2 linked regions of the Homo sapiens genome follow. The protein of the gene in region 1 purifies or fractionates together with the protein of each later gene. This does not show direct contact. Each region holds a gene or a part of one and is shown on either strand. Other genes may lie near its edges.

Region 1 (4,262 bases):
AGGCACCAGTCCTAAAGTCATGCTGTATCCCAGGGGCTTGCTTATTATGGCCCTCTTTGTTCAATTTTTCCAAAAACCATGGATAACAGTGGAGTTCCGCAAAGAAAAAGGGAGGAAGCAGCTGAAAAGGACCTAAAGGGAAGAGCATCACCTAGTTCTGCCTCCACTGGCAAGGTTTTGTCCCTAAGGAGAAGCACCCTGGTGCGTGTGGCCTGGTGTTAAGTGTGTTCTGTGGAGGAACAGGGAACCTGGCTTTCCAGCTGGGACTGCTTGCTTCCTCATCATGGGCCTGTGGACAGTCACTGTCCCCTTCTGGAGCTCAGGTTCCTCACCTGTACTGATGTATGTGTGAGCCTACACTGATGAAATCTTGGACCCCTCTCCTGCTCGCTGGGAGTCTGAGCTTCTTCAGAGCAGCAGGGACCTCAGAGATCACAGAAAAGGAGTCCCTGGGTGTAATGTAAGCTTAGTGCTTTGGGTGCCCTTTCTGTTATTAGTGCACAGGAGAGAGAGGGAAGGCGCGCCTGCCAAGTTTGAGCAAGTTGAGAGATTGCTCCAGGCATCCTCCCACTCCTGCCCTCCACCATCGCCCCATCCCAGTCCCCAGCTATTTTGATGCAAGAGAATTTCCTCCTACAGCTCTGTGGAAACACTGGAATCGTGACCCACAGCCCTCCCCAAACTATTTTGGTCTTGGGCTCCCCACTCAGTCCTCCTCTCCCTTTTACCACATTCAGCATTGCTTCTTCTCAACATGGGCTGAGCTCAGGTTCTGGGAAAGCCCCTTGGATAGGGCCTTCAGCTACTACTTCTGGGTTCTTGTGCCAAGTCTTGGTGTTGTCACACAGGAGAGCTGGTGGCTAGGGCCACAGCTGAACATTGCCTGCCTCTGGGTCAGGCTCAGATGCCACTGGGTTGGGATGCCCATCAAACCTATGTGATTTGGGCTTCTTCAGGCCCCAGTCCACCCTCCAGTTGGGATTGGCTGGTTGAGTTGCCGCATCTCAGTCTTCCTTTCAGCTCCCTACCCTGTGCCCAAAGTTTACACTGCTCAGGGCCTTGAGTTTGAGGAAAGCCAGGTTCTCGTAGCTGAGATCCAGGTCTTGGAGCTGCATGAGGTCCTGGAACTCTACTGCAGCCCTTTGGCCAGTCCAGGACTCAGGTTCTGACTCTTCCGGCAGGCCAGAACCTGACTCTTCAGGATATAGTCAGGGAGATTGCCAGGACTCAAATCCTGGCTTCAACACTTAGCAGCTGTGTAACTTCCAACAAGCTACTGAACCTCTCTGTGCCTCAGCTTCCTCCTCTGTAGAGTGGCAATCTCATTAGTGTTCTTCTGGGGATAGGAAGAGATAGGTAAAGCTGCTTAAGAGAGGGCCTGGTAAATAGCAAGTACTAAGGTCTCAAGTTCCTCCTGGAACATATTGGCTGTCACGCAACTTAAGCTATTGCAGCTCTGTTGAGATTGTGTTAGTCATTACTATTTATACGAGAGTTTCCAACACTTGGAATGCTAAAAAAGCATTCTGGTAGATTAGAACAGGGCTTAGAAGTCAGATAAATCTAGGTTTTATTCATGGTCCTGCCACTTTTTAATTTTTTAATTTGTATTTTTTTCATGGCCCTGCCACTTTCTAAGTGTGTGATTCCTGTCAAGCCTTTTTATTGTTCTAAATCTCAGTTTCTTCACCTGGAAAATGGGTATAATAAAAATGGGGGTCTCATGAGATAATGGATGCCAAGATCTTAGGTCATGGTGAAAGCTCAATAAAAACCACCAACCATAGGCTATTCTCACTTGTCTACTATCCGTCTGCCTCATTAGGTCATGAGCAGCGCAGTGGTGAGGGACATCTATTTAATGAATGAATGGGCCCTCGGTGCCTCACATGCACTGGAAGGATTCTACAAACAACCTGTTGGCCGAGCTGGTGTACAAAGAGGCAAGCCCACATTAGAAAATGCAGTAGGTGCTTTCTGGCTCTAAGTTCCCCCGCTTTCTTTGGAGCCTTTGCTTCCCATTGAGGCAAGCCCTCCCTGTTGACTGCCCCGTTCTGCCCCTCTATTACCTGCTGTACAGCGCTGGATCCGGTTTCGCAGCCACTTCAGCAGGGGTTCCATGGTGCAGCCACACACCCAGGGATTGCCACCGATCTGCAGGGTCACCAGCCCCGGTAGGCCCTCAAGAGCCTCCAGGCTGAGGAAGGCCAGGCCCCCATAACTGAGGTCCAGGTCTCGGAGCTGCATGAGGCCCTGAAAGGCCTGGGGATGCACCCTCCGCAGCCAGGGGTTGTGGCTCAGGTCGATGTGGACTAGCCCATGGGCCTCCTGGAACATGTCGGCTGGCACATGGCTGAAATTGTTGTAGCTCAGGTCCAAGTGTGCCAAGCGCTTGGCATGGAGGAAGAGGCCCCGGGGCAGCTCCATTAAGGAGTTGTTGTGCAAATCCAGCACCTGGAGCTCCATGTAGCATGTGAGGTAGCCAGGCGGCACTGCTGTGATGCGGTTGTGGGCCAGGCTGAGGTTTCGGGTGTCCATTGGCAGGTCTGGGGGCACGGAGAATAGCCGCTGGCTGCTACAATCCACCACCTGGTTACGGCATGTGCAAAGGACGGGGCAGCTGGTGCCGGCATCCGAGTGCATCAACCCGGCTGCCAAGAGGAGGGAGATCAGCAGCATTGCTGGGTGGGGTGGCCCGGGCCAGGGAAGCTGGGCCCAAGTGTCACCCATCTTAGGCAGCAGGCAACAGCAGTGCTGGAGGGAGCCCATGAGGACTGTGTCCATGGAATCGAGAGTCTGTGACACAGGAAGGCAGCTACATCTGGGGCCAGCGTCTGTGAAGGTGGGGCTTCTGAGCATGTGGTATCATGGCTAGGGACTTTCCCAGGAGCCTCTGAGCACCAGAGGGCTTCCTGAGATCCACGGGAGGTCCCCTTCCGGAGCCTAGGGGGCAAGACACCCAGTTGAGGTCCCCTAGGGTCTGGAATGATGATCAAAACCTGAGAAAGGGAGGGGACAAGAATGGGGCTAGGTCAGCTGCCAGCAAGTCCTGGAAGAGTTCCTGCAGATCTTTTGTGTCTCTCTCACCCATGCCTGCTGGATGTTTCCTCTTGGTGCTGTGTCTGGGAGGGAGGGGCTGAAGGAGATGAAACGTGCCCTTTAAAGATCCTTGGCACTTCTTCTGAGAAAACTTAAGTCCTGTCCCACGTCTGGGACTGATTAGGAAGCCGGGGCTGCACCTGGGTCTTCAGTGTTGAAGGTCTCAGAGGCCATTTGTCCTGGTGGCCTGGTGGGCTGGAGTCCAAGGGGGTCCCAGGGTGGGTGTTTTGGGAAAAGGGCCCGGGAGGAAGTGAGTCTCCATGGGCCTCCTAAAAGCCTGAGAGTCCTCAGCCTCAGTGGCTGCTGGAATCCCCAGGAAGCCTCTTTTTTTCCCAAAGAGAGGAGGACCCCAGGTGATGCCCACTGTCTGGGCCTCTGGGGCCAGAAGAAGTCATGAGTCCTGAAGGTGCAGGCTGAGTGTCAGCTGGCAGAGCTCTGGCATCTTCTCCAAGCCAGTGCCTTCCTCAGCGCAGTTCTGTGTTCAGCAGGTGGAGGCCAAATTCCCTCTGTCAACAAGGAAAGCACTCAGGCAGAGAAATCCTGTGCCCTTGACACTCCCTTGTCCCTTCACCTAGGACGCTTGGCTTATCTTTGTCTCTTTCCTTTGCTCCCCCAACCACAAAGTTCTCTGCTTACTGTCTGTCAGGTGTGGGCCATGGTAGGTTCAGACCCCAGGCTCACATTGCTGTTACCCACGAGCCCTCCCTGACCCAACCTGCAGCCATCCTCCTCTGGGTTCCTGTCTTGGGTTAGATGCATTTTCTTCTTCTTCTCATAACCCCACCCTCATTAGTACCAAACACGCCACCCTTGAACAACTCCCTAAGAAAAATCTGCATCCACACTCTGGGGGTTTGCACACCCCTTTCAAACACTCTAAGCACTCCTCTCTCTCTCACACGCACACACACACACTCACTCACACACCATTCTGTGACTCCCCCGTATTTTGCCCTGCCCCGTGCTCACGCCTCGCGGTTTTCGCTCCAGCTTCCTTCTGCACAGGCGATTCTGCAGACCCCTCCCCAGTCGACCCCCAGCATCTTTCGCCCCCCTCTCAGCGCACACCCTTCATCCCAGCATCCCTTTCCACACACTGCACTCTCCTCGCCGCCCCCAGCAGAGGGACCGAGAGTGATGCCACGCCCAGAGCCTCAGCCCTC
Region 2 (3,500 bases), on another chromosome or scaffold:
AAGACCATGAGCCCCCCCTTTTCAGGCAGATGAGTGAATCCCAGCTCTGTCCTCTGACAGCTTGTGTTGCCTTGTCACTGCCTCTAAGCCATGGTTTTCTTACCTGCCTCACTGGGTCATGGGAAAAAGGAACTGAAGTGATACATGTATTCAACTTAATGCCAAGCACATAGGTGTCTGATGAATGTTAGCTATGTTTATTATAATCAGGTAATGATTCCAGAAGGTCTTGATGAAATATATGGCTAATTCATGAAACTTAAAATAATTTAGAATTTCCTTAGCCTATTTATAAAAGTAAGAGAATATTATTAATAATTTTTGAATGAATATTATTTCTCTTTATGTTAATGAATATTAAGATATTATTCATTTAATCTTAACCATGAAACATTTTTGAAAAATGAGCTTGGTTCTTATTTAGATCTATTGTGGAACTTACCACCTAATGTATGTTTCTCCTAAACACACCAATTTTTACTAATATTTATGGCAGAAACCAAAATAAACAGTAATCAACTAAAAAAATACTGTTTCCAGTATTTTTAGTCTTTTTACAAACAAGTAAATTAAATGAACTTGGTCAGTAAAACATGTCACCGTAAGTTTGTAGTGAGACCACATTTAGACTAATTATAAATTGATACATTTTCATGTTAGTGAAACTTATATGGGCTTGACAGTGTTTGCAGAGGCTTTGAAATGATGTTAGGCAGGCTGGTAAGTTCAATGAAAATATTTAACTTTCTATCCCAGAGATTAGAGTTCTAAGTACAGCTGGTTTAATTTGGTGATACAAACCAAATCTTGGCACTGATCATATCGGATACTTATTTAAATGATTCTTGAATTTATGTATGACAGAATTTATATATGACAGAGTGTTTGTGAACCAATCTTCAAGGAATAGCTGGTGACAGTACCCCTCAGGCAGCAAGAAGATTAAATTAGTCACCTGAATTTGACCCTGCCTTCTAGTATTGAAAATCAAATGATGTCCTTGTGATTTTTTTTTTTAACACTTATGTTTACTTTTGGCTACCTGTAAAGTCTCTACCCTTTTAGTTTTTAAAAGCATACAGGCCAGGCGTGGTGGCTCACACCTGTAATCCCAGCACTTTGGGAGGCCAAGGCGAGTGGATCACGAGGTCGAGAGATCGAGACCATCCTGGCCAACATGGTGAAACCCTGTCTCTACTAAAATTACAAAAATTAGCTGGGCATGGTGATGCAGGCCTGTAGTCCCAGCTACTCAGGAGGCTGAGGCAGGAGAATCACTTGAACCCGAGAGGCGGAGGTTGCAGTGAGCCGAGATCACACCACTGCACTCCAGCCTGGGCAACAGAGCGAGACTCCATTTCAAAAAAAAAAAAAAAAGGGTACAGGTATCTGCCTAAGTTCTAATGCATAAGGCAGTTTCTTCAATATTTCTTCAAAGGCATTATTAGCCACTGTATCTGACAGTCACTGTGGTGACTCCTTGAATTAATTTGAAGAATGCCAACGTCTAATGGGAAGTGTCGTCTTACGGTCTAGCAGTCCTGTTGTTCCTGGGGGTTTTGTTCTGTGTGCCAGTTGCTTCTGATTTCCACAGTAGACATTACATTTATTTGTGTGTCTAGTGAATGCTCTTCTCAACTACCATCATCAATTAGAATTTATTTTTAATTTTTAAGCCATAGGTATTCTCATGTGCTTGAGGCACATGTGGTTCATTTTAAACCTACAATTACTGGCTGGATTGTCTTCTTTCTAGTATTGGGTACCCTGTGGTAACTTTGGGGTTTGGCTTCAAAAGTTACGTAAGCTACAAAATGCGGTTAAGGAAGCAAAAAGAAGTACAAAAAGAGAACGAGTTTTACATGCAACTTCTTCAACAAGCTCTCCCTCCAGAGCAACAGATGCTACAGAAGCAAGAAAAAGAGGCCGAGGAAGGTAGGTCTTTACCCTAAAGCTGTTGGCTCAATAGGCTAGTCATTATTTTGTCTCTTGGTAGAATTTTCTTTTCTGGAAAAGTAGCTAGGATTTTGTTTTTTTCTGTCTAATGGTGTTCCTCCTCAGGGTCATTGTTTTATTTGGTCAATGAAATACAGATGGTGAATGAAGTTTTTTACATACTGTCTGAAGACTATGTGTTTAAATATGTTTATTTTATTATTTTAAAATATATTTATATCTTTTTTATATTTTAATTCTGATTTTTTTTTAAATTTAGTTTTTTGAGACAGGGAGGGTCTCACTCTGTTGCCTAAGCTGGAGTGCAGTGATAACAGTTAGGGACCACTGCAGCCTCAAACTCCTGGGAGCAAAGTAATCCTCCCTCCTCAGCCTCCTGAGCAGCTGCTACCATGGGCACGTGCCACCATGCCTGGCTAATTTTTTTTAATTATTTTTTTGTAGAGATGAGGTCTCACTGTGTTGTTCAGGCTAGTCTCAAACTCCTGATCTCAAGCAATCCTCCCACCTCCACCTTCTGAAGTGTAGGGATTACAGGCATGAGCCACTATGCCCAGCCTGTTTTACGTATTTTAAAATATATATTCTCAGCAACAAAATACTATGGAACTATGTGAACTGGTAATTGAAGCAAGCCAAGAACCAAAGTATAAGCACAATGGAGATGTAGACATGTAGAATTGAACTTCAGAAGCCAGATGTCTTCTGAATAGAGCCAAGATGGATAGGTCGTGTTCTAAATGCTTCATATAATGTAATGCAGATTTTAAATTGAACCATTTCTAATGGAATCTCTCTCATGGGCATTTGACCAATAGAAATAGATAATTGGCAGTAGCTAGTTTCCATTGGTTTGAAAGTTGAAAGTTTGAGGTCATGTTTTTATTTAATATATTTCAAAATTTTCTTTTTGTGTGATGTGGTGCAAAAATATCTCTTCAAGTAGACCTTAATAAATTGGAATGTGTAGACCCAATACACAAAATTCTTTCTGAGTGGTCTGGTAAATGATACAGACTTCCTTATTACCTCAACACTAGAGTCCAGAAAAAGGATAGATGTCCTGTATCCTAAAATTATTCCTCTTCTTTTGTTTCATTTAACCTCTTTCTTTTCAGTAAAGTTATTAACAGTTCGTTTACTCCAGGCACTTAAAAAAATATGACTTCTTAGGATCTGCCTTTGTCCTCTCACCTCAGTGATAGGCGAGTTTGATTTGACTAATACACAAAGTGTGACCTAATTATAAAACCCTGATCTTGTTTTCAAGACTAGACCTTTAGTGGCCATCATTTTCATAAATGATGATGATTTTCTAAATGTAGAGTTTCTCAAATGTATTTGGATTTTCTTCTATTTTTTCCTACATCTTCTAGTAAACTATGAGGATTTGCTTCTTGATTAGCGTATAATGAGTGTGCAAACTAATGTGAATTTCTTAAGTGTAGATAATAGTTTGTTGAATTAATCTGTGTTGTTAAACAACTAAATATTCCGGTGGGGGCTTTTTGTTTGTTGGTTTGTTTTTGGTATTGTAGCAGCCA

Evidence for each region. The genes of interacting proteins can lie anywhere in the genome.
Region 2: the proteins of LRRC55 (region 1) and MACO1 purify together in Homo sapiens (affinity purification with mass spectrometry; one large-scale study listed by BioGRID and IntAct). This does not show direct contact.

Annotation. Positions count from the first base shown.
Region 1 is NC_000011.10:57,180,491-57,184,752, reverse strand, and holds the start of LRRC55 (leucine-rich repeat-containing protein 55 precursor), read right to left. Parts: upstream 2,801-4,262; 5' UTR 2,731-2,800; coding exon 2,070-2,730; intron 1-2,069.
Region 2 is NC_000001.11:25,454,897-25,458,396, forward strand, and holds part of MACO1 (macoilin), read left to right. Parts: intron 1-1,756; coding exon 1,757-1,935; intron 1,936-3,494; coding exon 3,495-3,500. UniProt on the Homo sapiens protein: Plays a role in the regulation of neuronal activity.